Linked DNA regions of Homo sapiens. The protein of the gene in region 5 purifies or fractionates together with the protein of the main gene of each other region. This does not show direct contact. Each region holds a gene or a part of one and is shown on either strand. Other genes may lie near its edges.

Region 1 (2,985 bases), on a different chromosome or scaffold from region 5:
GGGACTCCAGCATGGTCATCCCACTGCCTCTCAGGTGGTCACAGTGAGTGCCTCATAGGAACCCAAGTGGATGTGTTGGCCCAGCCCACCCAGTGCCCTCAAGCCCATGGGCCCCTCCCCTGTTGTCCCCCATGTGGCACCAGCCCTCAGTGAGTCCACCCTCTACCCTCCTGAGGAGCCTTGAAACGGCCTAAGGCAAGAGTCTGAACTTGGCCCAGATCACGGGGCGTGAGCTCTGGGGGCCATTCATGCCCCTCCCCCATCTCCTGCCCACAGTGTGCCAGGCTCCACCGCTGATGAGCCTCAAAGCTTCCAGGTCCTGCCTCCCTGGGGCCTTGGCCTGTGCCCTGCCCTCTGGCTGGGATGCCCTTCCCTTAAGGAATCTTCACAGACTTCGGTCTCCTCCTGGAGGTCGCCTCTTCCTGGAAGCCCTCGCTGTCCCTTCCATGACACGGAGACAGCCTAGCCCAGGCTGCTGCAGGCCCCACGTGGGCAGCAAGGGGTGAAGGAGGCTTAGAGAGGGCAGGTGGACGGGAAGATGAAGGCTAAGGGGAAGGGGGCCGGGAGCAACCCCTGAGGGTGGGATGAGGGGGACAGTGAACCATGGTGAACCACCCTGCCTCAGTTTCCCTCCTCCAGACCGACCCAGCCACCCCCTGCCAGCACCTGTGCCTGAGGGGCAGGGCCTTCTGGAGCGCTAACCCACCTGATGCGCCCATCCTCCCCACCCTTCCCAACCCACACACGCAGACCCGCAGACATTTTGTTTATTTATTTAAAACAAACATCTGTGCGCTATGTACAGGCCCGGCTCCCAGGGAGGTGGGCGGGCAGGGGGCCAAGCTGGGTGGGAGAGCGATGGCAGCTGGGGGTTGGGGGGGGTCTGGCCCCTTGCCTGGCCAGCAGGGTCAGCTTCTCCATTCCTGCCACCTGCCAGCTGGCCCAAGCTGATGGCTTCCCGCAGGACAGCCACCTCCCTGCAGGAGAGCAGGGCCAGAGGAGCCTCTTCTCAAAGCAAAATAAATACGGGACTGACCCAGCTCCGCCCACAGCCCGCTCTCGGCATCAGCCTTCATCGTAAGAGAGAAAAGCTGGTTCCGAGGCCGGGCAGGAGAAAGGCCAGCAGTGCCTGGTCCAGCCGGCGTCGCCTTGGGCGGTGAGCAGTGCCAGGCAGGGGCGAGGGGCCGGGCAGACCCCGAGGCTTTAAGGCAAAGCAGGGCAAGGGTGTACGCAGCCCGGGCCGGGTCAGCCTTTGGCACAATTAGGGGCGGCAACCGCAGTGACCACAGGGCATGGCCGAGTACAGGGGCTGGAGGACCAGAAGCCCCTTGGTCCTGAACCTCCACTCCAGGCCCTGGCAGGCACTGGGGGACTTCTGTCCCCATTGTTGAGTCCCTGGCCCAGCTCTGGGTGGTCAGTGGAGCGTGTCCTCCCTGGCCCAGCTCTGGGTGGTCAGCAGAGCGTGTCCGTGTTGAAGGACAGCTGGGCCTGTGCACAGGGGAGGTCAGGCTTATGGGGCATCCTGTGCCACCCCCTGCTGGGGCTGAGGACACTTGTGCTGGCCCGCCCCGGCCCTCCTGCAGGCTGGGCCTGGACGCAGGGTCTCCCCACGAGCTCCCTCTGTGTCTGGGCTCTCCCGGGCCTCCGTCTGCCGAGTCTGGGGGCCACTGAGTCTACATCGGTCCCCTGTTCCCCGGCTCTGGTCCCCTCTGCCCCACCCTTGCTCTGTGCCCCTCAAAGACTCTAGCAAGTCTGGACCATGCAGTTACGTCTCTCCAGGCCTATCTGCAAGTGTCCCTCGCCCACTCTGCCCCCTTGACCTCTGGACAGCAAGCATCCTGGGGCCAGTTCTCCCCCGACCCCACCCGCGGCTGGAGCCACCAGGCAGCCTGGGTCCAGTGGGCAGAGCCCTGGACAGCCATGAGAGCAGCCTGCTCACCCGCTCCTCCTCGAAGCTGATGAGGCCCTCGTCCTCCGTGTCCAGGTCCTCGGGCTCGTCTGCCACAAGTGCCCGGAGCTCCGTGGGGGCAGACCGGGGCCGGAGCAGGCTGAGCAAGCAGCCGAGAGGGGACTGCAGTGCGGATGGCGGCTCCGTCTCCTGCTGCTCCAGGTTGTCACTCTGCTTCTTGGCAAAGTTCACGAACACCTGGTGGGTGGCGCAGGCGTGTGGGGAGGGGGCTGGTCTGGGGTGAGGAGGGGCAGGGCGGGTGAGGGGAGGGGCAGGTGTGGTGCGCAGTGCCCTTGGGGCGCTCACATTGTCCAGTGTGGTCTGGCTGACCGAGTAGTCCTCGATGCCCAGCACGCCAGACACCTGCTCCATCTTGCTGAACACCTGGGCCAGCGAGATGTGCTCCGACTTGAGCTGGTACTGCACCTTTGTGTGGTGCCGCTCCTGCAGGGGGGGAGGTCAGAGGCCTGGCAGCGCCCCCCCACCCCGTAGCGCCCCCTCCACAACCCTGCCCGGGACGGCGCACCTTGAGCATGGCTTCCGGGAAGTTGCGGTTGAAGAACCGCACCACGTCCTTCACACTCTGGCTGCTCTTGGTCCGCACCGTGATCATGTAGCCATCTCCAAACCTGGTGGGACAGGCCGGTGGCCCGGAGCCCTGCGCCGCCCAGCCAGAGCCCCAGCCCCCCAGCCTCCCAGCCCTACAGCCCCCACAGGCACCCCAGGAAGCCCCATAGCCTCCCACAGCCCCCCAACCCCACAGCCCCCACAGCCCTCCAGGCTCCTCCCCTGGCCCCACTGCCCCAGTCCCCCCAGCCCCAGTGCCCCCAGCCCCCCTGGCCCCACAGCCCTCACAGCCCTGCAGCCACCCCCACTCCTGGCCCCGCTGCCTGGCCGCCCCCCCCGGGCCCGCCCCAGCCCACCCCTGGCCCTGCCCCGGCTCACCGGTTCTTCAGGTGCTGGATGCTGCCCAGGCACCGCAGGCGACCGTTCACCATGATGGCCAGCCGCGTGCACAGCGCCTCGCACTCCTCCAT
Region 2 (4,233 bases), on a different chromosome or scaffold from region 5:
GTTTGATGCCTTCCCGGATCAGGCAAGTATTTAGTCTGTGGATGCAGTTAGGGTCCACTGAGGGATTGACTGGGATTTCCTATCAGATTAATTCCTCTCTCTCAGTGCTAACAACGTTGAGCAGGAATAGTGTGCATCAAGTCTTTCATAGAAGGTGGGCATATCAGTGCTTTCTCCAGATGTGTTAGGACAAAGAAGCCAGACCCTGAGCCATCCGTTGCCTTCATGTTGATGTCTTTCCCCACCCAGGTGGCCATCCAGCTGAATGACACTCACCCTGCACTCGCGATCCCTGAGCTGATGAGGATTTTTGTGGATATTGAAAAACTGCCCTGGTCCAAGGTCTGGATAGTTTGGCTTCTTTTTCCTTTAATTAACCAGAATGGCTGCAGTTGAAAGACTGCCAAAAACTCCCTTTTTAGTTTTTCAAAGTAAGTTATTGTTGCTAACTTTCAACAGTTAAAGGTATATTTTCCCTGACGCTGACATTTTCCATCCTTAGAGTTTTATAGGGAGTAAGACTATAAAATAAATGAGCACATTCCTAATGGGACACAAATCAATAGCTATATTAAGGCTTATATTGTGTTTACCATTTTTGTGTTGAAAAAGATTAAAAATTAAATTATCTAACCTCAGAAGACAGCTAATTGAGTGTCCCCATAGCTTTAGAAGTCAGCATTTTACATACTTTGTACTTGCTGAGAGCACTATTTACGTTTTTATCCCTCAATCTGTGTATTTAATAAGTGAAAGACACATAAGGATAGTAGATAGATTGATCAGAATGCTGTCTTAAGTTTCACCAGTAGCTTTACAAATGGCTTCCCCCTCACACCCAGAACATGTTTCTATTATCTGGACTATTCAGGAACTTAGTGGAATTGAGTGCTCTGACTATGCACACTTGGAATGGTCCTGTTGCAGACAGGGCAGGGTTGAAGAAGGGTTTGGCCCGTGCAGTGGGGTGCCCACCTTCAGGGCAAGCAGCTGACTCCTTCCTTTCCCCCAGGCATGGGAGCTCACCCAGAAGACCTTCGCCTACACCAACCACACAGTGCTCCCGGAAGCCCTGGAGCGCTGGCCCGTGGACCTGGTGGAGAAGCTGCTCCCTCGACATTTGGAAATCATTTATGAGATAAATCAGAAGCATTTAGATGTAAGTCATTTTGAGAGATTTTCTCTGTTCATGAGCATAAGATCTTAAGGTGTTACAGATGGCTACAGTGTTCCCTCTTACCAAACATCTTTCAATCATTGATACAGCAAAAGTACTCAAGTCCGAACGGGGCTCCAACAAAGGCAGCTTTTTGAAAGTGCTGAAATGGAGGGATGGCACCTCCATAGAGCTAACTCAACCCCTCCCTGTGGTAGTGAAGTTTATATTGAGTACACCAAAGATTTTGCTTAAGACATGAACAGCGTTATCCCAATGTTGCATTAAACCTGAGTGACCAGCAAGGGCTTTCTCTTCCTTTGGCTAGAGAATTGTGGCCTTGTTTCCTAAAGATGTGGACCGTCTGAGAAGGATGTCTCTGATAGAAGAGGAAGGAAGCAAAAGGATCAACATGGCCCATCTCTGCATTGTCGGTTCCCATGCTGTGAATGGCGTGGCTAAAATCCACTCAGACATCGTGAAGACTAAAGTGTGAGCCTCCATTACTCTGGCAGTGGGTCTGACACTGATCCATTAATGGAATGATGCTACTAAATGCAGGGTTGCACTTAGGGATGAGGAAAGGCCTTGTTCAAATGTTTAAAAGTATTTTCTTCTATACAAAAAACTCTTGCCTAAAAAAAAAAAAGAAAAGAAAAGGAAAGAAAAGAATGCTTTCCTCTCAGAGCCATCTTAATTCTAGACATAGGAGCCAAAACAAACAAACAAACAAAATACCAAAAACTATTCTACTGAAAGTGTAGTATATATGTCAGTGTGAAGAAGTCAGATGGAAGTGACTAGATTTGGAATTTTTCTGGTAATTCTTTTGAGTTGCAAATGAATTTCTATTTAAATGACAGCCATAGCTACTGTCAGCCTGTCCCTCCACCTTTATTTAACCTTTCTAAGCCTGCACTTGGCTTCTTGAATATAACTCCGAACTTTGTCCAGTGTGCAGGACCCTTTGCCGTTTCAGCCAAATTCAGTGATGTGTCTCCTCCATCTCCAGATTCAAGGACTTCAGTGAGCTAGAACCTGACAAGTTTCAGAATAAAACCAATGGGATCACTCCAAGGCGCTGGCTCCTACTCTGCAACCCAGGACTTGCAGAGCTCATAGCAGAGGTAACTGGGAAGTGCTGAGAGGAAAGGAGGCCTGACTCGAATGCAAGAGGCATATGACTATACTTGTAACTTATAAATCCAGTCTGCAGCAGGGCTGGCTTCCTCAGCATGTGGTTTGTGCAGTCACACAGGACTCCATGCTGGGTTTAATTCTCTGCTGTAGTCATCTTGAAATTATTTATTATTATTATTATTATTATTATTGAGACAGAGTTTCACTCTATCACCCAGGCTGGAGTACAGTGGTGCAATCTCTGCTGACTGCAACCTCCACCTCCTGGGTTCAAGCAATTCTCCTGCCTCAGCCTCCCGAGTAGCAGGGATTACAGGCACACATCACAATGCCCAGCTAATTTTTGTATTTTTAGTAGAGACAGGGTTTTACCATGTTGGCCAGGCTGATCTTGAACTCCTGACCTCAGGTTATCTGCTCCTCCTTGGCCTCCCAAAGTGCTGGGAATACAGGCATGAGCCATCACACATAGCCGTCATCTTGAAATTCTTAATTTTTGAACAAAAGGTCCTGCAAATTATGTAGCTAGTTGCAGCTAACAGTATTCATAGGACACTCACATAGAAGATGGTTTTCTCTAGTAAAAGAGGATAATAAAGCTCATATAAATAACTAACAGAACCTGGGTTCCTGGTCACTCTTATAAGTAGATTTCCTGTTTTTAACACTTTAATACCAGTGAAGCTGGCCGGGTGTGATGGCTCATGCATGTAATCCAGTGCTTTGAGAAGCCTAGGCAGGAGACTCACTTGAGGCCAGGAGTTTGAAACTAGCCTGGGCAACATGAGACCCACCCCCACCACCACCACCCGTCTCTACAAAAATAAAAAGATTAGCCAGGTGTTGTGGCATGCACCTGTAATCCTAGCTACTCAGAGGCTGAGGCAAGAGGATTGCTTGAGCCCAGGAGGTCAAGGCTGCAGTGAGCTATGATCACGACATTGCTTTACAGCCTGGGTGACAGGGTGAGATCCTGTCGCCAAAAAAATTAAATAAAAATAAAAATAATTTTTAGGCCGGGTGCAGTGGCTCACACGTGTAATCCCAGCACTTTGGGAGGCCGAGGAGGGCAGATCACAAGGTCAGGAGATCGAGACCATTCTGGCTAACACAGTGAAACCCCGTCTCTACTAAAAATACAAAAAAAAATTAGCCAGGCGTGGTGGCAGGCGCCTGTAGCCCCAGCTACTGGGGAGGCTGAGGCAGGAGAATGGCATGAACCCAGGAGGCGGAGCTTGCAGTGAGCCGAGATCGTGCCACTGTACTCCAGCCTGGGCGACAGAGCGAGACTCCATCTCAAAAAAAATGAATAAATAAATAAAAATAAATAAATAAAAATAATTTTTAAAAACTGCTGAAACTACATTTAAGATACTAGCAAAAGTGTTCTTCTCACATAGACTTTATAGACTCTTCTTTGAGTCAAACTATCCCATGTTCTGTGTGATACGTGAACTACACTGTGGTAGGTGACAGAGAGAAATACTGACAGAAACTGCCCATTTGGACTTGATTACCATCCCCAAATTGAAGTCATCTTTTCCTTTGAATTGAAAGAAAATTGGAGAAGACTATGTGAAAGACCTGAGCCAGCTGACGAAGCTCCACAGCTTCCTGGGTGATGATGTCTTCCTCCGGGAACTCGCCAAGGTGAAGCAGGTGAGCCTTCCAGGTGTGGGTCCCCTCCTGGGCACTCACTGTGAGAGTTTATCCTGTAGTTTTTGTTTATTTTTTGAGACAGAGTCTCGCTCTGTTGCCCAGGCTGGAGTGCAGTGGCACGATCTCGGCTCACTGCAACCTCCGCCTCCCAGGTTCAAGCGATTATCCCGCCTCAGCCTCCCAAGCAGCTGGGATGACAGGCGCCCGCCACCACGCCCGGCTAATTTTTGTATTTTTAGTAGAGACAGGGTTACACTATGTTGGCTAGGCTGGTCTCG
Region 3 (4,233 bases), on a different chromosome or scaffold from region 5:
ATGGGGAAGTAGGAGTGGAGAGATGGACACAGAGAGGGAGCAACGGGTGGAATGTAGCTGAAGGCAGGGTGCGGGGGCCTGGTGGACAGCCGGCAGGAGGCACTCACTTGCTGGCTCCAGGCCTGGTAGTAGGCTCCCAGGAACAACAGGCAGGCAACGGGCACTGGGCCCACGGCTCTCCACATCTCAGGTCTGGACAGCAACTTCAAGGTCTGCCTTAGACACGGCTCAACAAGAGGCTGGAGCCCAGACACCTGTGTCCAAGTGACTAAGGAAGGGGTGGCCGAGAGGCTGGCCTCAGCAGAATCACTACAAAAGTGCCAAAGGGTGCCACAGTGAGGATCTGGCTGCCTCACGCCCCTTTACACTCCAGCCACCCCAGCCCTGTGGAGGAGCCCTCCACCTGTCCTGTGGGTCCTGGCTATAAACTACCTGATGGTTTCAGCAGGGGTACTGCCGGCTGCCAGGGTTAGCTGGGTGAGGAGAGTGAGCAGTGAGGCTATCCGCTGCATGGACAGGGGTTGAGGTGGGTGGGTGCTGAGCTCCCGCGGCACCACCTGCAAGGCCCGCATCAGCACTGGGTAGAGCTCCCTAGGGAAGAACAGGGACTGATTTTCACTGTATGAAAGCAAGTGGAGACATGAGACACAGGTCATGGCCCTGACCCAGGGATCTGCAGTTTGATAAAGGAGGATGAGGAGGAAGAGTGGGGCACTCTTGGAAGGCTCAGCCCTAAAGAATGGAAAGGATGTTGTCCTTCAAGGCTGCCCCCAACAGGGAATTTAAATGTGATTTCACAGATACCAATGCTTTTTTTTTTTTTTTTTTGAGACATTCTCTGTTGCCCAGGCTGGAGTGCAGTGGAGTGATGGAGTGATCTCGGCTCACTGCAACCTCTGCCTCCCAGGTTAAACCGGTTCTCCTGCCTCAGCCTGCCGAGTAGTTGGGATTACAGGTGTGTGCCACCACGCCTGGCTAATTTTTGTATTTTTAATAGAGACGGGGTTTCACCATATTGGCCAGGATGGTCTCGAACTCCTGACTTCGTGATACGCCTACCTTGGCATCCCAAAGTGCTGGGATTACAGGCATGAGCCACAGTGCCCGGCTAATGATTTTGAGCATAGAATACGGTTAAGCCAGGTTTATCCCCCTCTTCCCTGGCTGGGCCTGACTCCTAAGCCTTTTCACATCTGGCAGAAGCCCTCCCACTCATTCTTATCCTTCCTCCAAGCTTGGGACCTTGAGCAAGGCTGAGGTGTTTGATTTGGCCAGAAGAGCAGAACTGAAGGTGTCTAGGGGGAGCCTACCCCCTGCCTCTCCTCACCTGTAAAGGTAACCGCCCTGGCCATAGGAGGCAGCCACAGCCCACAGACGGAGGGCCTCGGTGCTCAGCATCTCAGCTTCCTCTGGGGGCAAGGCCAGTTCTTGGGGAGCCTCAGCTATGATGCGGCACAGGCGGCTCCGGAGATCAAAGCTGCTCAACTGGAAATGGGCACAGTCTGAGGATCAGGGTCAGCTGTGAGTCTCAAGTCCAGCTACTCTCAGCTGGACAGAGAGTGGCTTAACTCAACCCTGACCCAGGCCCCTCTGGTGCCACAAAGTCATACCTCATCCACCCTGCCCTTCCTTCTTATTATTTATTTAAAATTTCAATTTTATTATTTTACTTTTTATTATTTATTATTATTTTGAGATGGAGTCTTGCTCTGTTGCCCTGGCTGGAGTGCAGTGGAGTGATCTTGGCTCACCACAACTTCTGTCTCCCAGGTTCAAGAGACTCTCCTGCCTCAGCCTCCCAAGTAGCTGGGACTACAGGCATGCGCCACCATGCCCGACTAATTTTTGTATTTTTAGTAGAGACGGGGTTTCATTATGTTGGCCAGGCTGGTGTCGAACTGCTGACCTCGTGATTCACCCACCTCGGCCTTCCAAAACGTTGGGATTACAGGTGTGAGCCACCGCACCCAGCCCCTATTATTTTTTTATTTTTATTATTATTATTTTTTTAGATGGAGTCTCGCTCTGTCGCCCAGGCTGGAGTGCAGTGGCGCAATCTCGGCTCACTGCAATCTCTGCCCCTCCAGGTTTAAGCAATTCTCTGCCTCAGCCTCTGGAGTAGCCGGGATTACAGGCGCATGCCACCACGCCTGGCTAATTTTTTGTATTTTTAGTAGAGACAGGGTTTCACCATCTTGGTCAGGCTGGTCTTGAACTCCTGACCTCATGATCCACCTGCCTTGGCCTCCCAAAGTGCTGGGATTACAGGTGTGAGCCACCGCGCCCGGCCCTATTATTTGTTTTTAGATGGAATCTTGCTCTGCCACCCAGGCTGGAATGCAGTGGTGTGATCTTGGCTCACTCCACCCTCCATCTCCCGGGTTCAAGCAATTCTCCTGCCTCAGCCTCCCAAGTAGCTGGGACTACAGGCGCACACTATTATACCTGGCTAATTTTTGTAGTTTTAGTAGAGGTGGGGTTTTGCCATATTGGCCAGGCTGGTCTCGAACTCCTGACCTCAAGTGATCCACCACCTCGGTCTCCCAAAGTGTTGTGATTACAGGCGTGAGCCACTGCACCTGGCCAGTAGTAGTATTTTTGAGACGGGGTCTCGCCCTGTTGCCTAGGCTGTAGTGCAGTGATTGGTGCAACCAGCCCACTGCAGCCTCCACCTCCCAGCTCAAGTGATCCTTCTACCTCAGCCTACCGAGTAGCTGAGACTACAGTCATGTGCTACCACATCTAGCTAATTTTTTGTTTTTGTTTTTTGTAGAGACAGAGTCTTGCTATGTTGTCCAGGCTGGCCCCTGAACTCTTGGCCCCAAGTGATCCTCCTGCCTTGGCCTCCCAAAGTGCTGGGATTACAGGCCTGAGCCACTACACCCAGCCCTCCCTCTTTATAGCAAGGCTTGCTGGGCACCTTCTCTAGGGCTACTTGGCTATAGATGATGAATGCCTATGTGCATGAAGCCCTTCTGATCTGGGTCTAGGGAACAGGGAGACCTCCTATTACATCATGAGACCACAGTATACCTATATGATGCACCAGGCTCCAGTAAACAGGCTCCAGTAAACAGGTTCATGCCTGGTGATTTCTGTTGCATTTCTAAGCAACTGGATCAGAGAGGAAGAAGATGGCAAGAGCTGGCCACCCAGAGTTCAGGAGCCATGTTTAGCTCCCAACCCAACCCTGTCCCATGCATTCCCCCATCCCTTGCCCTGTGTCCTGCTCACCAGCCGGGCAGCAATATTCCTCCCAGCTGAGGCCAGGACACGAAGTAGTTTCATGGCAGTAGCACAGGGTACTTTGTATAGACTAGGGGTAGGCCCTGCCCCCACAGGAGACCAACTGGTGGGCAAGAACTCTCGAACTATAGTCTCTATCAGCCGAGGGCACTCCAGGACCTATGGGAGACAGGAGGTAAAAGGGAGGAAGGGAGGCTGTGGGTCAAGACAAGGCCCAGCTAGGCTTTTTGCCCATTCCCTGCTCCCTTTTTTCTCACCCTTGTGGCTGATTCCAGGGAATGCCGGGCCAGGCGGATGAGCACAGCCAGGATGTCAAGGACCACCGCAGGTCCTGGGTATGTCACCTCCAGCACGTAGCGCAGCCGAGGCAGCAGGCTGGTAGCCAGGAGCCCCTGGGAGTTGGAGAGAGAAACCCACTGACAAATGCAGCTGGACCCTGGGCATTGATGGCCCCTCTTTCCAGCATGTGCTTGTCCCCTGGGCCATGGGATGGGAAAGAAGCTGTCCCTTTACCTTGATGACATCATGTCGGGCCAGGTCAGGTGGAGGCCGGCTTTCTTCTTCAGGGCTTTTCCTTTTTGCTTTTCCTGCTGGGCATTCTTCATCCTCGTCCTCATCCTCCTTGTCCTCCTGGCTGGGCATCAGAGGGAACGTCAAAGCTCCATGGTACCAAGAGAAGGTGCTGTCGAGGAGCTCCTGCCAGAGGAACGGGAGTTGGGGGGCAATGCTGAAGGGGCCAGGAAATGGATCCAGGAGTAGAGAGGATGCTCCCCAATAAAAACCATAAAGGCAAGCCTCCTGGGCTTTAGGGACTTTAGGAGATGAGGGAGACGCCTGCCATCCCATTCTACATCTTGCCCGCAAAGCCTTAGCAATGGGGCCATGCCCAGGAACAGGAATATGGACCCTGGCACCTCCCAGCCCAAGCCCCATTCCTATCCCTGTGGTACCTCATCTCCAGGAGCCACCAGCAGAGCCCGAAGAGCA
Region 4 (4,233 bases), on a different chromosome or scaffold from region 5:
GCCGAGGGAGGTGGTGAGCACAGCATGGAGGTGTGACATAGCCACTGCATGAGGGGGCGCTGTGTGCTGGGCCTGGCTGAAGTGTGTGGTAGGGGTTGATGTGTGACAGGGTCAAGTTGAGGCAGACTTGATGGAGGCTGGCCTTGTTCTGAAGGCTGGAAGGAGCCTTGGATGCTTCTGAAAGGCCCTTCAGAAAGCAGCATGGTGGGACGAGGAAGGCTGGAGGAGACAGGCCAGTTGGGAAGGTGATTTCAGCCAAGATGGTAGTAATGAGGGAGGAGAGTGGGAGATGCGTGGGAGTGGGACTTTAGATGCGTGGTGGCCTCTAGAGTAGGGGTGCAGGGGGATCCAGGGGTCTTCAGGGTGCTTTCTGGTTTAGGGAGCTGTTGACCATTATTGCGATTGGGATTCCAGGATGAGAAACAGGTCTGGGGAGGTTGGTTGCCTGTATGAACACCTGTGAAGTGCATACAAACAGATGCAGGTGTGGGCTTTTCACCCGCCTCGTGAAGGTTTCCACGCCCAGTGATGATATGGAAAACCTGGAGTCTACCTGGTTGAATATTCTTCTCTCTGCCTCTTTAGGAACACAAACTGTGAAGGCAAAGAGAGACAGGGCTCTGGGCGTGGTGGGGGCAGCACGGCCCCTTGCACAAGATTTTGGGCATGGATGAATGGATCTCTTCATCATCACATGCTGACCTTTTAGCATGCCTTCCCTCTGGAGAACTGATTTCTCTGCGTGAAAGAGAGGATGATGGCTTATGACCTCCTTTGGTATCAAGAAATATTTCTGTAAGTTAACAGATGGCAAATCAGTAGTTGGGGGACTGAAGAAAAGTTGAGCAGCTCAAGGGCACCACACTCAGACCTGCATTGCATGTCGTGTGAGTTGGCCCTGTACTCTAGCCCCCAGTGGGGAGGGATGGATATCCGGCCACCTGCTGCTTGTCAAGCTGTATGCTGCTTAGATGGGGCACCTTTTTCTAATTTGCACCAACTCCCTGTGAAGGAGTGGAGGCCAAGGCCTGGCTGAGCTGAGGCGGGGATGCCATCCTTCCCCACTGCCATCCAAGGCAGCCATCGTCAGCCAGTCCTCAGTCATGCACGACTTTCCTGCCTGGTCTTAGACTCCTTCTCAACATTTTGCTCCAAGATGCTACCTCCAGGTGATCATAGAAATTTGCTTTCCCTGACTGAACCTGTTTCCCCACCTGTAAAAGGAGGTTGTATTGGATGGTCTTTCAGAGTCATTTTGGCCCTGATGTCTGATTTCTAGTCAAACTTCAGACAATCCTGCTTCTCCTCCAGGTCCCCAGCCATGGGAGATATAGCTGGAAGGAAGAATTCTCCTTACTAGAAGCCTTGAAGGAAGAACCTGTGGGTCCCCTTTGTCTTGTGAATGTGGCCTGACGACATGGGGAAGAAGGCAGGGTGGCCCCCGCAGCTCACCCTTGAACAGAGGGTTCAAGAGGCTGCATGTTTACATGCGGATGCTCCTCTCACACAGTGTTTATGTGTACTTTTGAAGGAATTAAGAGCCGCCTCAGCTGTCCTTGTCGGGTAGGGACTGTGTATAGCACAGTGACAAGCACGGAGCCCTTGATATTACTCATTTAATTGTAGGCCTCGGCAAGCCACAAAAGCTTTGTTGCCACACATGGTCGTGGTGAGTCGACTGTTTGAAAAGCTGCTTGCACAGAGCCAGACACAAGCGAATGCCCAGTGGGGGCTGTCCCTTTATGTTCCTCTGTTTCCCGGGCTTCCTAACTACCTTTTCCTAATATGAAATGAATGCCCAAGTGTCCCAGTGGTAAGCTCGTCTTTCCAGCATCTGGATGACTGTCAAGGGGTGGAGCGAGTGGAAGGGACGCGCAGAGCACTTCTGTGGAACCCCCTGCACCCTGGCTTTTCCTGGAGCCTGCTCCTGTGGGTTCTCGGAGTCCCGGCTGTGCTGCCCGCGCTAGAGCTGCCTTCTGATCTTCAGAGCCCATCCTTCGTGCTCTGGGCTCCTAAGACCCTTCTTGGGGTAACCTTTGCTGCTTTGCTTCCCTGCCCACCTCCCTTGGTAGGGGCCCCTGCGTGGAGCTCTGCAGCCTTCACTCCTGGATTTGTGCACAGATCAGCCCTTCACTGACCCGTGAATTTCCAGTTACTCATTCAGCCATTGATCAGTGCTTCAACTGGATGATTGGGTTGCTTATCAGATATTGATTTGCCCCTGCCATGACTGGGCCCCTGTGAGGAGGGAAGTTCAAAATCCTCACATTGCTCCAGGTTGGGGGAATGAGAGCCGGTAGTAGGAAAATAGCCTGAGGCAGTGTAGAGAAGAGAAAGAGCTGTGAGAAAACGTGGCATTTTGTCTATCTGTGGTTTCTAGCCAGGCTGGCTCTCCTTTCAGCTGGTAGCCATCAGTTACATCAGTTGGCAGCTTTGTGAGGGGCAGTTAACTCGTGTGTGTCTGCTGGTGAGGTGGTCGTGATGTGAAGTAGTGGAAGTCATTGGAGTCATTCATGGAGGGATCTTGGGAAGCCCCTTGTCCTCTCTGGGCCTCTGATTTCTCTGAAAATCATGACATTTTAGGAGATGTTCTATAGAGTCTTCATAGCTGTAGGGTCTGCCATCATTAACCAGTCCCGAGCCTGCTTTTCTCTGGTGACACATACCCCACAGGACCCCACTCGCTGCCTTTCATGCCTGTCCCCATCTAACTGGGTGCGCACTGGGGCTGCCGGCAGAAGCAAGCACCAGGGGAAAAAGGTGAGCCGTTCACACAAAGCGATGGGCATTCTGAGGCGCAGAGCAGTGGTCCCTGGGATTGCTCCCTCCAAGCCTCCCTGCCAGCCACTCAGGCAGACAGCCAAGGGCTGAGTGCTTTGCTTACCTAGTGCTGAGAGCTTGACATTCTTTCTGTGGTTGGAGCAGCAGTCGTTCCAGGACCCAGGCTCTCAGGGTCTGTCCTGAGATACTTCAGTTAATTAGAGGAAGTAAATGCAGTGACAGCTCTGAGCTAGCCTGGGCACTCTCAGATTAGATCACAAAGCCTGATGCTTGGAGCCAGGGCCGTGGAACCTGATTTTAAACATCAGGACTGGTTGGGTGCTGCTTGGAATTAGGGAGACTTCTTACCCTTGAGGTCCCTGCAGCCCTGTGAAGTTATTCAAATGGCTTGGAGTCAGGCCTGTCCTCGGGAAGGAAGAGGCAGATAAATTTTTAGTCATGCCTTTGGGGTTTCTGCCCCATGTCTTAATGATGGTTCATGGACTTATCATGTCCTGGGCCAGGATTGAGCAATATGAGTGACAGAGTATGGGCCCTCTTTCCTCCAAGCCCAACAGAGGGATCTTAGGCATACATGTGTTCATTCCTATACTCACTCAGCAAGCATTTATCGAGAACTTGCAGTGTGTCAGGCACAGAGCTGCAGGCGGGGCAGCATGAGTACACATGGCCCCTGCCCTTGAGGAACCCATGAGCTAGATGGAGATTCAGACCTGCAAGGGCAGCCTCTTCTGATAGAGCATGATCAGTTCTCTGAGGTGGCTCCAAGTCTGAGGCTCTGAGAAAGCATGGGTGAGGGGCTCTATCCTTGGCTGGAAGTGGCCCAGGAAGCCTTCTTGGAGGAAGAGGCACTGTGGTATTGCTGGCTGTGGTAGGGAGTTGGGGACTCGGCCCACAGTCTTTCACAGGTTAGGTCAGTTGAGCTCATTATTGCATCTTGGGGTGAGCAGATTCTGGGACAGCAATGTATAATACCTGCGCTCACATGAGACTGCTCACTGCTTCATTTACAAGGGGCTGAATCTTTCTGGGCCAGGAGTGTCCAGGCAACCTTTTCTCAGCCAGGGGCCTGAGGCCCTGAGTAACTGAGAGGTCACATGGTGGATGAGGATCAGGGCCATGAGTAGGGACAGACCCTTTTGTCCTGTGTTGCAGCCCCCTCTCCAGTGGGCAGGAAGGTGGGGAGAGATGGTCACCGGCTCCCACTGGGTCCTGGCCCAGAGTCTTGGTGGCAGGCAGAGATGGCACTTCTGTGGGAATGTCTCTGGTGACTTTGGGGAGGGGGCTCTGGGAGGTATGAGCTGCCCCCTGAAGACCTGGGAGGGCCACAACCCAGCTACCTCAGGGAGCAGGGGCTGAGACCTGGCCTGCCTTGCTCTTTCGCCTCCCCCTCCCACTACTCCCAGCAGAGTTCAGGGATTTCTAATTCTCTGGGAACCTGGAGCTTGTAGC
Region 5 (4,233 bases):
GAACGGGAAGCAAGACAGCCCCGCCCCCGCCCAGCCCCATCCCCCAGCACCCGTGTGTGTGATGCACGGAGCGTGGGGGGGAGACGCCAGGCCGCGTGTGGCTCCGGGTGGATGGTGACGAGGGACGTGGCGTGGGGACGCCGTATCTAGGGTGCCGCTGTTCTTCGTCAGCACATGCTTGGCCGCCAAGACGCTGTCCCGGAGGGGCTGGGGTCCCGCGGCTGGGAGGGCGGCCGGGGAGCTGAGTGCCCGCCCCATCATCCGCAGGTGTGGTCCTGCAGACCTGGCTTCTGAACCGCTACCGCATGGTGCAGCTGGAGCCCATTGACCAGGTGGTCCTGTCCTACGGGGGCCTGCGCGGGGCCGTGGCCTTTGCCCTGGTGGTGCTTCTGGATGGAGACAAGGTCAAGGAGAAGAACCTGTTCGTCAGCACCACCATCATCGTAGTGTTCTTCACCGTCATCTTCCAGGTGAGGCCCAGCCCAGCCAGCCCTGGGGTCTCGGCCCCGCCCGCGAGGGGAGCCTGGGCCCGCACTTCAGGACAAGCATTTCCAGGCTCCAGACCCTAATTGGGTTTCATAATTTTAGTAACTAGGAGCCGTTTTGTAGGTTTTCACGTGGCCCCACTGGGGAGGAAGCATAATTGTCCTAAAAATGTTCTTCCCGGGCCTTCGCTGGTGGATGAGGCCCCGGGTGCTGCTTCCTCCTCTGCAAAGCAGGGGCGCGGGTTGCTGGGTGCCCGGAGAGCAGGGAGGGCGCCTGTGGGCCCCGGGGCAGGTGGCTCTGTGTGGTGCACCTGGCCGGGCCAGCGGGATGTGGGGGGCTGCCTGGCACCAGGGTCACGAGACCCTGTCCTCCAGGGCCTGACCATCAAGCCTCTGGTGCAGTGGCTGAAGGTGAAGAGGAGCGAGCACCGGGAACCTCGGCTCAACGAGAAGCTGCACGGGCGCGTAAGTGCGGGGCTGGGGGGCGGGGGGGGGGCACTGCGTGTTCCTCGGGGCTGGGCTGAGAGGGGAGAGGAGGCTGCGTTGGTCTGGGGCTTGGGGGGTGGCGGAGGGCACCGTGTGTTCCTTGGGGCTGGGCCAGGAGGGGAGAGGAGGCCGCCATACGTGCGGGGCTGGGGGGCGGGGGGGGGCACTGCGTGTTCCTCGGGGCTGGGCTGAGAGGGGAGAGGAGGCTGCGTTGGTCTGGGGCTTGGGGGGTGGCGGAGGGCACCGTGTGTTCCTTGGGGCTGGGCCAGGAGGGGAGAGGAGGCTGCGTCCAGGCCAGGGGCGTGGTGAGGGGGGCTGGTGGGTTCCTCGGGGCTGGGCCAGGAGTGGAGGGGCACCTCATGTTCCCCGGTTGGCCGCCCCGAGACGCTCATGTCTTTCTTCCCTTGAAAGGCTTTCGACCACATCCTCTCGGCCATCGAGGACATATCCGGACAGATCGGGCACAATTATCTCAGAGACAAGTAAGTGGCTGGGACGGCCCCGGCGGTGTCGCACAGCCCGGCTTCTGGAAACATCCTCCACTCGGAAGAACCAGAAGCCACATGCATAACAACTGTTTGAGTCCAGGCTTGGTCAGGGCTCCGGTGCCCCATGAGGCCAGGTGCCAGGTGTGCCCCGAGACACGCAGGTGCTGCGGAAAGGAGTTGGCGGCAGCAGTTGGGGCCACCGAGTGAGGGGACAGGAGCTGAATTCTCTGTGCTCCTTCCAGGGAATAGAGATGCCCTCTCATGTGGCCCAATTAATTCCAAATTGTTATGTAGGAATTGAAAATAAGGCAAATAGATTATTTCCTCCACGTCATAAACAGGGTTAGTATCAGTCAACATTTAAAATGATTTTGTCTGGCAGGGCTCAAGCCTGTAATCCCAGCACTTTGGGAGACTGAGGTGGTCAGCTCACTTGAGGTCAGGAGTTTGAGACCAGCCTAGCCAACATGGTGAAACCCCGTCTCTACTAAAAATACAAACATTAGCCAGGGGTGGTGGCGTGGGCCTGTAATCCCAGCTACTCAGGAGGCTAAGGCACAAGAATCGCTTGAACCCGGGAGGTGGAGGCTGCGGTGAGCCGAGATTGCGCCATTACATTCCAGCCTGGTGACAGAGCGAGACTTCGTCCCAAAATAAAAAAAAGAGTTTGTCCATTAAGGTGAAATCACCTATGTTTTATTATAAAAAACATGTGACACTTATAATAAACCCAGTAAGGAGCACATACAATTTGCCCTGGGTTCCCATTTTCTGAGCGATCTGTGTTTGCTTGGGGTGGAGGCACCGGGAGGTGTGGCCACGTGGCTTCATAAAGCTCAGCTGCGGTTCTCCGTGGCCACAGTGACTCTGCTCCGGGTACCCAGTCCCCGACTCCTTGGCCTCCCAGGGGCCATCCCGGGGGTCTCGGAAGGCACAGCCTCGGTTAGCTTTGACTTCTTGGTGTGGCTGAAACTCAGCCTGTACAGGAGAGCTGCCATTGCTGCCGCGGGGCCTGCCCAGGTGTGAGCACACAAGCTCACCCGGGCCCACCCTGTGCCCTGGAGGGCGGCTCTGGCGGCTGCACCCATGTCCAAGTGACAGGCATCACCTCCTTGTGCCCCAGAGTTTCCTCTAAGTCCGGCCAGGCCACCGTCCCTTCTGATCTGGATAACCAGCGAATACTCTAATTCCGTTAGGCTAAAAAAAACCTCACTCTGGTCAGCTTGGCTCCCACAAGTCTAAGGGCTCAGGGTGTCTGTCCGCCCCTGCCCTTCCTCCTGTGCACCTGAAGGTGCCCCCCATGTGGCCAAAGCCCCCTTGCCTGACCAGGCCTGACACCCACCGTGTCCTGAGCCACCCTCTGGAGGAGGCGGCATGCAGTTTCATATGCGTCTAACGGCCTCCATCCAACAGGACAGGCGGGAGAACGGCGGACGGCCTGGGCGTGTGGCAGGGGCTGCTTCCCTCATTTTAAACGCGCCTACAGGGTCACTATAGCAAACAAAATTCAGGAGAGAAGGGGCCGGGCCACGCGTCCGGCGGGCTCTAGGGCGCCTGTCACCTGAGGCTCACACCCAAGGTCTGTCCCTACAGGTGGTCCCACTTCGACAGGAAGTTCCTCAGCAGGGTCCTCATGAGACGGTCGGCCCAGAAGTCTCGAGACCGGATCCTGAATGTCTTCCACGAGCTGAACCTGAAGGATGCCATCAGCTACGTGGCTGAGGTAGCAGAGCCGCTTGCTCTGCCGGGTCGGGGCTGCAGCAGGCTCTGGCACTGGCTGTGGGTGCCATGGGGCAGTGAGGAGAGGCCCCTGCACCCGCGTCCCAAGGCCAGGCCCACCCCAGCAGTTCACGGGAGGCTGATGGGCCTTCTGATGCCCTGGGAATCCCAGGGGCTCTCGTGGGGTAAACTGAGTCACAGAGTCCTGGTGACTGTGGTGCTGGTGGGGGTGAGCGCTGAGGTCAGGTCCTAGGACCCCGAGCTCCCTTGCTTTCCCCAGGGATGGGAGCAGACGGTAAGCAGGCAGGCTGTTACGGGACCTGGTCCCAATACAGCCCTGCCTGCCCCAGCACACGCAGGTGCCCACAGGTGCACACGCACAGGCAGAGGGGCAGCAGCAGGGCCGTCTCCCGCTGTGGGCCGGCCATGGCTCTGAGGCTGCTCCAGCATCTCCCAGTCCACTATGAGCAGGCCTCTCAGCGTCTGCAGAGCCCCTGACTGCTCCAGAGACCAGAGGCCAGGCGCCCCACCCAGCCCCGAGGCCACTGCCGCCCTGGCTCCCGCACCTGCCCACTATGGCAGGTGGGCCTCAGCCTCCCCGGCCTGCCCTGACCTCCCCAGGGGCGCCCTGGCTGCAGGAAGTGTGCAAGGCAGGGCCTGGGGGCACAGCTGCAGGGATTCCGCAGCTCCTCCCTAAGGACAGAGCCCTCCCTAGCGAGCTTTGGTGCCCTCATCCAGCAGCCGGTCAGGGTGGGTGCTCTCGCCGGAGAGAAAGACCTGTCCTGCCAAACCCTGCAGACCCTCACACAGAGGGCCAGTGGGGGCCTGGAAACTCCATTCATTCAGACAGAATGATTCTGCCTCCACTGACGTGCATTCACCCCAGATGTGCCACCCGTGACTGGGGCCATGCCAAGTGGCAAGGCACCTCCTGGCAGAGGGCACGGGGGCCTGGGGCTGTCAGGAGGGCCAGCCAGTGCAGATCAGGAAGGAGGGCTCCTGGACCAGGCTCCACACAAACCCCCAAACCACAGGCCCGGCAAGCGAGAGAAAGC
Region 6 (4,233 bases), on a different chromosome or scaffold from region 5:
GGTGGTGATGTGAGTTGCGGTTTTAAGAGGTCAAAGTGTACCACTCTGAAAGGGCAATATTTGAGCCAATCTTTGAAAGTGGTGAGAGAGAACAGCCAGTGCAAAGGCCCTGAGGCACTTCCCAAGAGGCAGTGGGGGAATTACATGCTTTTGTCCCTGCCCTTTGTGGTTGGCAAGATCAGACTGGTAATACCCTGGGACCACAGTCAAGTGCTGAAATATAGGAACTGAGAGAAGAGGCACCCTGCTTTGGAGAGGTCAGCTAAGGCTTAGGGACAAGGGAGGCCTTAGAGATCTGCAGCAGCAAGTGTGTGCCTGGGGCCTAGCCCAGAGCCTCGCCTGGTAGACAGTTAAGTTCAGCATTTTCCCTCGGACATTTTAAATTGGAGCCCAGGTGCTTGCCGCAATGTGGTTGTAGGGGTAGGGCTGGGTGTGTCAGGGCCTGTGTGGGACAGTGCTGTATGCTGTTGAAGAGCTTGGTGTGCATCTGACCAGTTGGAGGGAGCCATAGTAGGTTCTTGAGCAGGGACTGAAGTGATGACATTGAGTGCTGGGTCCTTACTGTGTGATAAGGGTGATAAGGAGTGAATGATATGAGGAGACTGGTCTTTGCTGCACAGAGTGCGATGGTGCACCGGATGGTTGCAGGCAGCAGTCTGCAGGCAGAGAAGAAAGCTGCGTTTGTCTTCTAATACAGCCGGGGCTACTGATGGTGTGGGCTGCTGTGTTGGAAGAAAGGACAGGTAGGAACTGGGTTTCCCGTGAGTGGGTAGGTCTTTCTGGTAGGAGGTGAAGGGAGGAGAGCAGTGCAAGATGACTATAAGATTTGCCCAGGGGTGGCCGGGCACAGTGGCTCACGCCTGTAATCCCAGCACTTTGGGAGGCCGAGGCGGGTGGATCACAAGGTCAGGAGTTTGAGAACAGCCTGGCCAACACAGTGAAACCCTGTTTCTACTAAAAATACAAAAATTAGCCAGGTGTGGTGGCATGTGCCTATAGTCCCAGCTACTTGGGAGGCTGAGGCAGGAGAATTGCTTGAACCCAGGAGGCGGAGGTTGCAGTGAGCCGAGACCCTGCCATTGTACTCCAGCCTGGGTGACAGAGCGAGACTCTGTCTCAAAAACAAACGAACAAACAGAAACAACGGTTAACACATGTTCTTTTTCAATAGGGTGATTCTGAAGAGGGTCTGGAGGAGCCTTCTCAAGAACAGAGGTAAGGAAAAAATGGGGGTGGAAACCTGCATGCTGAATGTCCCTGCCCACTTTGGGTGCTCTCTGAAGTCTCAGTATATGTCCATGTTTATGTATTTAGTAGTATCTGTAATACACCTTTCTCTTTGGCATTTGTCGTATCTATACCTTCTAATACATTAATACGATTTTGTTTTAAAATAAGGTTGTTTAGAAAGCTGTTAGAAATAGCCCCTCCTTCGCCACTCACCAATTTCACTTTTTCCATGATGTGCTTGTGCCCTCCCTCTTGTTTATAAACATCTATTGAGTGCCAGGCACCGTGCTGGGTGCTGAACATGAAACACAAACAAGACCTCTGTTTCGTGTAGTGGGCAAGTAAGACTTTACTGTAAGTAAAATAATTATGCTTATGACAAGAGCTATCAAGAATTAGTTTCCTGTAGTAGAGAATAATGAGGTGGATGGGCTCCTTTTGGGAGGTGACATTCCAGCTGAAGCCTGGAGGAAACAGGAGCAGCCACACAGCAGCGGGAACAGTGCTTTGGTCAGAGGGAATGGAGGTGCAAAGGCCCTAAGGCTGGAAGCCCTGCCGGCAATCCAGGAACTTGGAGAAGGCCAGTGTGGTTTGTAGGATGGTGAGATAAGGTATGTAGTCCTTTAGAAGTCGCAGTAAGGAATTTGAGTTTTGTTTTTAAGTGTGGTGTGAATTGTTAAAGAATTTTAACCAGGGGACTGGAATACAGTGGTATGATCCTGGTTCACTGCAACCTCCGCCTCCTGGGTTCAAGCAATTCTCCTGCCTCAGCCTCTCAAGTAGCTGGGATTACAGGCGTGTGTCAACATGCCTGGCTAATTTTTGTATTTTTAGTAGAGACAGGGTTTCTCCATGCTAGCCAGGCTGGTCTCAAACTCCTGACCTCAAGTGATCCGCCCGACTTCGCCTCCCATAGTGCTGGGATTACAGACATGAGCCACCGCACTCGGTCCTGTGAATTCCATTTTTAAGAGAATACCATGGGGCAGTCTTGGTCACTTGTCAAACTGGGTCCCTTAGAGGTACACGAAGACACTCTAAGTGGTGTATAAGTGGGAGGATAACTTGCAAGGACTACGCTTCCAGACCCCCAGGGTGTAGGTATCTCCTAAAGCTGATCTGAGTTGTAAGTTACCATTTTCCACCTCTGCTTTCACAATCTCTTTTCTCCACGTTACAAAAGAAAGCTGTATCTTCCACCCAGCCCCAATCCTGCTGTTGGCTTCATCTTGGGCAAAGAGGCAATTTGAAATATTGGTGTTTGTTAGGAAAAAGTGATCCACTCTGATTGGATGACAAATTCTTTAGTAACTTTGGTGGTTTTCAGATCGTTCCTTTTAGTAAAATTGAAGGAGGACCCAATGAATTTGACAACTGATAGATCATTCAAGTTACTTTTAATGATGGCTCACTGTGTGATTTTTAGATGAAACACTGAGGTAGTTTAGAGAATATACGGATAGTGCTGTAATAAAGCTGTTTCAGTACTTACAAGCTTTTTCAGTACTTACATTTAAAAAAGTTAAAAAGGAAAGGATTAAGTTGATAAAAAACCTGTCTCATTCTAGTAGTGGGTAATGTTCACATCAACCAGTTGGGGGGAAAATAGCTCTGTTCATCTCATTAAAGGATGCATTTTCAATAAGATTTTACTTTCTGTGTTTAATTACCTATCAAAATTTGTAAAACTTGTTGGTTTGATCAATTGTATGCAGTCGGCCCTCTGTATCTGTGACTTCTGCATTCGTGGATTCAACAAACTGTGGATCGAAAATACAGAAAAAAAAAGTATCTGTACTGAATATGTACAGACTTTTTCTTGTCATTATTCCTTAATACAGTATAAAAACTATTTACATAGCATTCACATTGTATTAGGTATTATTAGTAACCTAGAGATGATTTAAAGTATACAGGAGGATGTGCATAGGTTATATGCAAATACTATATACCATTTTATATCAGGGACTTGAGCATCTTCAGAATTTGATATTCTTGAGACGTCCTGGAACCAATCTCTCAGGGATTCGACTGTACTAATACAAATTGTATTGATAACTTTTTTTGTTTTTGGAAACAGTGTCTCACTCTGTTGCCCAGGCTGGAGTGCAGTGGTGTGATCTCGGCCTACTGCAACCTCCCCCTCCTGGGTTCAAGTGATTCTCCTGCCTCAGCTTCCTGAGTAGCTGGGATGGCAGGTGCACACAATCACGCCCGGCTAATTTTTGTATTTTTAGTAGAGATGAGGTTTCACCATGTTGGCCAGGCTGGTCTTGAACTCCTAACCTCAGGTTATCCGCCGGCCTCAGCCTCTCAGAGTGCTGGTATTACAGGCATGAGCCACCACGCCTGGCCTGAATTGATAACTTAATTCAGAAGGAAAAAAATTAATATTTAGACCTATGGTCATAGGAAAAATGTTTTAAAAACCTGAAATTTCAATTTATATTTATAGTCTTGTAGCAGAAGGCTTTGAACATAACTATGTATTCAGTTAAAATTCCTTGGGTAGGGCCAGGCGCAGTGGCTGACGCCTGTAATCACAGCACTTTGGGAAGCTGAGGCAGGCGGATCACGAGGTCAGGTGATCAAGACCATCCTGGATAACACAGTGAAACCCCCTCTCTACTAAATACACAAAAAATTAGCCAGGTGTGGTGGTGGGCGCCTGTAGTCCCAGCTACTCGGGAGGCTGAGGCAGGAGAATGGCATGAACCCGGGAGGCGGAGCTTGCAGTGAGCTGAGATCGCACCACTGCACTCCAGCCTGGGAGACAGATTCCATCTCAAAAAAAACAAAAACAAAAACAAAACAAAACCAAAAATTCCTTGGGTGACGTGGAATAGAAATGAGTTCATGGAGGAAAAGGAACAACATAAAATATCCAGCCATGAAGTTTATTTTTGTATTTAAAAAAATGGATAATGGTAGATATCATTTCAGTGGTATTTAGATTCCATTGAATTTATTTTAAAAAGGGATTGTGAGTTTTATTAAAAATGC
Region 7 (4,233 bases), on a different chromosome or scaffold from region 5:
ATCCAGGCCCCTTCTCTGCAGCCTTATTAGATCTTGCCTGGACTATTGCAGTAGCCTGGTAGCCTTCTTGGCCTCTACTCTGCCTGCCATCACGCTCTCGGTTTCTTTTTTTTTTTTTGAGATGGAGTCTCACTCTGTCACCCAGGCTGGAGTGCAGGGGCACCATCTTGGCTCACTGCAACCTCTGCCTCCTGGGTTCAAGCAATTCTTCAGCCTCAGCCTCCCAAGTAGCTGGGACTACAGGCGCGTGCCACCACGCTCGGCTAATTTTTTGTATTTTTAATAAAGACGGGGTTTCACTGTGTTAGCCAGGATGGTCTCCATCTCCTGACCTCATGACCTGCCTGACTCGGCCTCCCAAAGTACTGGGATTAGAGGCATGAGCCCCCGGGCCCGGCCCAGGCTTTTGGTTTCTAATGCTTCCACCACCCTGTGGCTGGAATAAGCTTCTAAGGCAGACATAGGATGCTGCCACTCCTTTGTCCCAAGCTGAAGGCTCCCCAGAACTCAGGGGACAAAACCCAAACCCTAGCATAGCACATGAGGCCCTGCATGACCAGCCCTTTCTTTCTGAAGCAGCTTCACATGATGCCTTTCTTCCCTGATCCCACTCCTGCCTATCCGCTGTCTGCTCCAAATCACCAGGCAAATTGCTGATCCAGGAGCCTGCCATGCCAGTTCACACCTCTCTACCTTTGCACACACTGTGCCCCTCCCTACTTCTCACCTCGTGGTGGGGGTGGGGGATCTACCTACTTGTTCAGCCTTCACAGTTCAGCTCCATTGTCACTGATGCAGCGAAGCCTTCCCAGCCCTCTCCCGGTGCAGTTGGTGAAATTTCTCCCATAGTGGACGTCTGACAATGTGCTGCGGTTTTCCATCTCCTTTTTCCACTAGGCTGGGAGCCCCCAGGGGCTGAGCTGTGTCTTTGTCATCTGTGGTCCCCAGGGCCTATACGTGGGAGATGCCCACTAAGTGGCTGCATCTCGATGCCTCTGGGTGCACAGGGAAGGCTTGGAGGGGTGAATGCAGGAGCTGGGGTTCTGCAGCACAGTCATGGGTGGGCTGGCTATGCCTCCTCCTCTGGCTCTGGGTTGGGGGCTGCCATTTCCTGCAGAATGACTGTGGGAGGACCCCTGAGGGGGACAGCTCAGAAGATGCTGCTTCCAGATGACGCAGGAGGTCTTGGGCAGATTCCCAAGATGCAAACCACAAGACCTTGTGATGACTCAGAAGGGACAAGGAGAAAGGGGGCTTGGAGGGCCGCTGAGGCTTGGGAGTTTGAGGGCAGAAGCTGGGGAGAAAGATTGAGATGGGGCTGTTAGGAAGGGGAGATGCTGAGGATATTTGACAGGGCAAGATTAAAGCTAGGGGTGGGGTGACAGCTCAGCCCCCGGGGGCTCCCAGACTAGTGGAAAAAGGAGACGGAAAACCGCAGCACACTGTCAGATGTCCACTGTGGTGGGTGACAGCTGAGGCCTGGGGGACCACTGGCGGATAGAAGATAGCTGGTGGGAAAGATATACCTGGGGGATGGGACAGCTGACAGTGAAGGGACAGGCGGTATTGGGGGAACAACTGAGGGTTGGGGGACAGGTGGATGATAGAACAAGGAGATGTGGGTGATAAGATAAGAGGTGGAGATAAGAGGTGACAACTGGGAGCTATCAGAAACCTAGTGGATAGGACAGGTGAGTCTCAGCTGAGAGTGGGAAATACATTGCTTAGAATGTGTATGTATGTGTGTTTACAGGAGCGTGCATGTGGACTTGTGGCTGGGCATGCCTGTCAATATGTGTTTGTCTAGCGTGTGGTGGTTAAGAGCATGGGTTCAGGGCCCAGACCATCTGGGTTCTAATCCTAAGCCCACCACTTCTAGCTGTGTGATACTTTGGTAAGTTACTGACCTCTCTGGGCCCTTAGAGTTCTCATTTGTGGAATGGGGATAATAATAGGACACACTGCATGCGTTTGTCATGAGGATATGTTTTATGGTTATGATTATGTAGGTTAGAACAGGTCCTGCACATAGTAAGCACTGTGTAAGTGATCACTGTTATGATGTGTGTATTTGCATGCGTGCGGTCATCCTGTGTGCCCAGAAAAGTTTGTTCTTGGTTTCTGATGAAGTCCAGGCCTGGGAGGGAGTAATAGTGGTGGGGACGGGGGTGGTGGTTGGGGAGTGCCTAGCCAGGTTGATTGAGTCTGGCTCTTCTCTGACATCCTAACCTCTTGTTCATCCTACTTCCTGCTCACCCTGTCCCAGGGCCTTATCCAATAATAGGTCTTTCTCTCTATCTCTCCTCTGTCCTGCCCTGGGCTGGGGGCCAGGGGCTGTACTTTAATTGTCTGAGAGCTTTACCAGCAGAATTTGAATTCATTGTTTTCCTGCCAGCATGCTGGGATTCTGCTCAGTTATAATACCTGGACAATGTGCTCGATTCTAGATGGCCTATCCTGTGGGTGGCAGTGGCTTCAGCCTTTGCCCTTGGAGAGTCACTGGGGTGGAAGATGTTGGAGGGAGGGAGACAAGCCAGATGAGATTTCGGCCCCCAACTTGTGGGGTGAGCCAGCGTGGCCGGGCAGAGCTGTAGGTAGAGAGTTTTCCAGGGATCTGAGCTCCCCTCTCCTCCAGTGCATCACAGGGAGGCATCATGACCCTCCCAGCAACACTGTTGCAGCGTGCCAGGCTCTGGACTGCTCTGGATGTGCACTGTCTGGGATTCCTGGGTCCAGCCTCCTTGCACAGCCCTGTGTCTCAGCCCTCTACTTCACTGGGATTGCTGCATTGCATTGAGGGTGTGCGTTCTCCTGAGTTTCTGCATGCTCTGCCTCTGCATTGTCCCATTGGACCGTGCCTCCATCCTGCCATGATCCTGCCATGGTCCTGCCATGTGTGTGTCTTTGCTGCTCTCTTGTATACTGTGTCACTCTGCTGGATGTCAGTGTTGCATTGGGAAGGTGAATTCTCCTGGGTTTCTGGGCGGAGCTGCTCACACTGCACCACTGTCTGAGATCAACACATGGTTTTCTGTGGCCACATTGCATGTTTGTGTCATAGAGCATTTATATTCTGCACCCCATTGCCTCACCAGGCAGTCTACATTGCATTGGGCACATGGACTCTTTTGGGGTTTGGGCATAGCTCCTCGCATTGCAGCACTGCACCGTGCCAACAGATGGCATGCTACCACAACATTGCATCTTGGCATCACACAGCATCTCTGTACTGCACTGCACTATTGCATGGACGTCAGTATTGCATCAGGACTGTGAACTTTTCCTGAGTTTCTGGGCATGGCCCCTCTGCATTCCACAGTTGCATTGTACCAACAGTGCACTTTGCCCCATATAGCACTTCTGTGCATGTGCACTGCTTTGCTGCACTGGATATGTGCCTCATGGCCCAGCCCTTGCACTGCACCACTGCTGCTGAAACGCTGCCCCTATGGTGTCCTGGCCTTTCACGCTCCTACCACCATGGTATCTGTAGGCTGGCGTCCTTTTCCAGGTTTTTGTTGTCAGCCCTACGTGAACAACATCTTTGCATTGAGTGTCCTCACTGCCCCACGTTGCACATGACTCAGGGAGTCTATATCTATAGTACAGCTTGGGACCACTTTCTTGGGCTTCAGGACTGGCTTAGGTTTGCAAAGGCAGCACCACTGCACAGTATCTGACATTGCATTCGTGCACTGCACAGGATTACTGCCCAGGGCCTCTACCCTGCAACGAACCTGTTCACTGTTGGGTTGTGTGCACTCTACCGGATTGCGGGACCCAGAGCCCTTGCGTTGAATCCACTGGTTCCACACAGCATCTATTTTTTTTTTTTTAAGATGGAATCTCACTCTGTTGGCCAGGCTGGAGTGCAATGGAGCGGTCTGGGCTCACTGCCACCTCCGCCCCCTGGGTTCAAGTGATTCTCCTGCCTCCGCCTCCTGAGTAGCTGGGATTACAGGCATGTGCCACCAAACCCAGCTAATTTTTGTATTTTTACTGGAGACGAGGTTTCACCATGTTGGCCAGGCTGGTCTCAAACCTCTGACCTCAAATGATCCACCTGCCTCGGCCTCTCAAAGTGCTGGGATTACGGGCATGAGCTACTGCGCCCAGCTCCACACAGCATCTTAATTGTACTCCATTTTGTGCCACTTCCTACCCATGCCTCGAGTCTGCACATACTCTGTTCCTCAGGACTGTATTTATTGGGCTTATATGCTAGGCTGGGTT

The links.
Region 1: the proteins of SLC9A3 (region 5) and ABCA2 purify together in Homo sapiens (affinity purification with mass spectrometry; one large-scale study listed by BioGRID and IntAct). This does not show direct contact.
Region 2: the proteins of SLC9A3 (region 5) and PYGL purify together in Homo sapiens (affinity purification with mass spectrometry; one large-scale study listed by BioGRID and IntAct). This does not show direct contact.
Region 3: the proteins of SLC9A3 (region 5) and RPAP1 purify together in Homo sapiens (affinity purification with mass spectrometry; one large-scale study listed by BioGRID and IntAct). This does not show direct contact.
Region 4: the proteins of SLC9A3 (region 5) and ESYT3 purify together in Homo sapiens (affinity purification with mass spectrometry; one large-scale study listed by BioGRID and IntAct). This does not show direct contact.
Region 6: the proteins of SLC9A3 (region 5) and TMEM131L purify together in Homo sapiens (affinity purification with mass spectrometry; one large-scale study listed by BioGRID and IntAct). This does not show direct contact.
Region 7: the proteins of SLC9A3 (region 5) and PTPRU purify together in Homo sapiens (affinity purification with mass spectrometry; one large-scale study listed by BioGRID and IntAct). This does not show direct contact.

Annotation. Positions count from the first base shown.
Region 1 is NC_000009.12:137,006,477-137,009,461, forward strand, and holds the end of ABCA2 (ATP-binding cassette sub-family A member 2), read right to left. Parts: coding exon 2,894-2,985; intron 2,578-2,893; coding exon 2,475-2,577; intron 2,393-2,474; coding exon 2,255-2,392; intron 2,147-2,254; coding exon 1,940-2,146; intron 1,489-1,939; coding exon 1,453-1,488; 3' UTR 758-1,452; downstream 1-757. UniProt on the Homo sapiens protein: Probable lipid transporter that modulates cholesterol sequestration in the late endosome/lysosome by regulating the intracellular sphingolipid metabolism, in turn participates in cholesterol homeostasis.
Region 2 is NC_000014.9:50,912,751-50,916,983, reverse strand, and holds part of PYGL (glycogen phosphorylase, liver form), read left to right. Parts: coding exon 1-22; intron 23-249; coding exon 250-342; intron 343-1,012; coding exon 1,013-1,159; intron 1,160-1,484; coding exon 1,485-1,648; intron 1,649-2,168; coding exon 2,169-2,283; intron 2,284-3,853; coding exon 3,854-3,955; intron 3,956-4,233. UniProt on the Homo sapiens protein: Allosteric enzyme that catalyzes the rate-limiting step in glycogen catabolism, the phosphorolytic cleavage of glycogen to produce glucose-1-phosphate, and plays a central role in maintaining cellular and organismal glucose homeostasis.
Region 3 is NC_000015.10:41,523,664-41,527,896, forward strand, and holds part of RPAP1 (RNA polymerase II-associated protein 1), read right to left. Parts: coding exon 4,197-4,233; intron 3,943-4,196; coding exon 3,760-3,942; intron 3,639-3,759; coding exon 3,504-3,638; intron 3,406-3,503; coding exon 3,235-3,405; intron 1,486-3,234; coding exon 1,328-1,485; intron 592-1,327; coding exon 433-591; intron 310-432; coding exon 108-309; intron 1-107. UniProt on the Homo sapiens protein: Forms an interface between the RNA polymerase II enzyme and chaperone/scaffolding protein, suggesting that it is required to connect RNA polymerase II to regulators of protein complex formation.
Region 4 is NC_000003.12:138,437,465-138,441,697, forward strand, and holds part of ESYT3 (extended synaptotagmin-3), read left to right. Parts: intron 1-4,233. UniProt on the Homo sapiens protein: Binds glycerophospholipids in a barrel-like domain and may play a role in cellular lipid transport. Tethers the endoplasmic reticulum to the cell membrane and promotes the formation of appositions between the endoplasmic reticulum and the cell membrane.
Region 5 is NC_000005.10:478,785-483,017, reverse strand, and holds part of SLC9A3 (sodium/hydrogen exchanger 3 isoform 1 precursor), read left to right. Parts: intron 1-267; coding exon 268-470; intron 471-860; coding exon 861-950; intron 951-1,382; coding exon 1,383-1,453; intron 1,454-2,125; exon of another isoform or gene 2,126-2,656; intron 2,657-2,801; exon of another isoform or gene 2,802-3,052; coding exon 3,053-3,182; exon of another isoform or gene 3,183-3,236; intron 3,237-4,233. UniProt on the Homo sapiens protein: Plasma membrane Na(+)/H(+) antiporter. Exchanges intracellular H(+) ions for extracellular Na(+) in 1:1 stoichiometry, playing a key role in salt and fluid absorption and pH homeostasis.
Region 6 is NC_000004.12:153,472,674-153,476,906, forward strand, and holds part of TMEM131L (transmembrane protein 131-like isoform 1 precursor), read left to right. Parts: intron 1-1,171; coding exon 1,172-1,215; intron 1,216-4,233.
Region 7 is NC_000001.11:29,242,798-29,247,030, forward strand, and holds part of PTPRU (receptor-type tyrosine-protein phosphatase U isoform 1 precursor), read left to right. Parts: intron 1-4,233.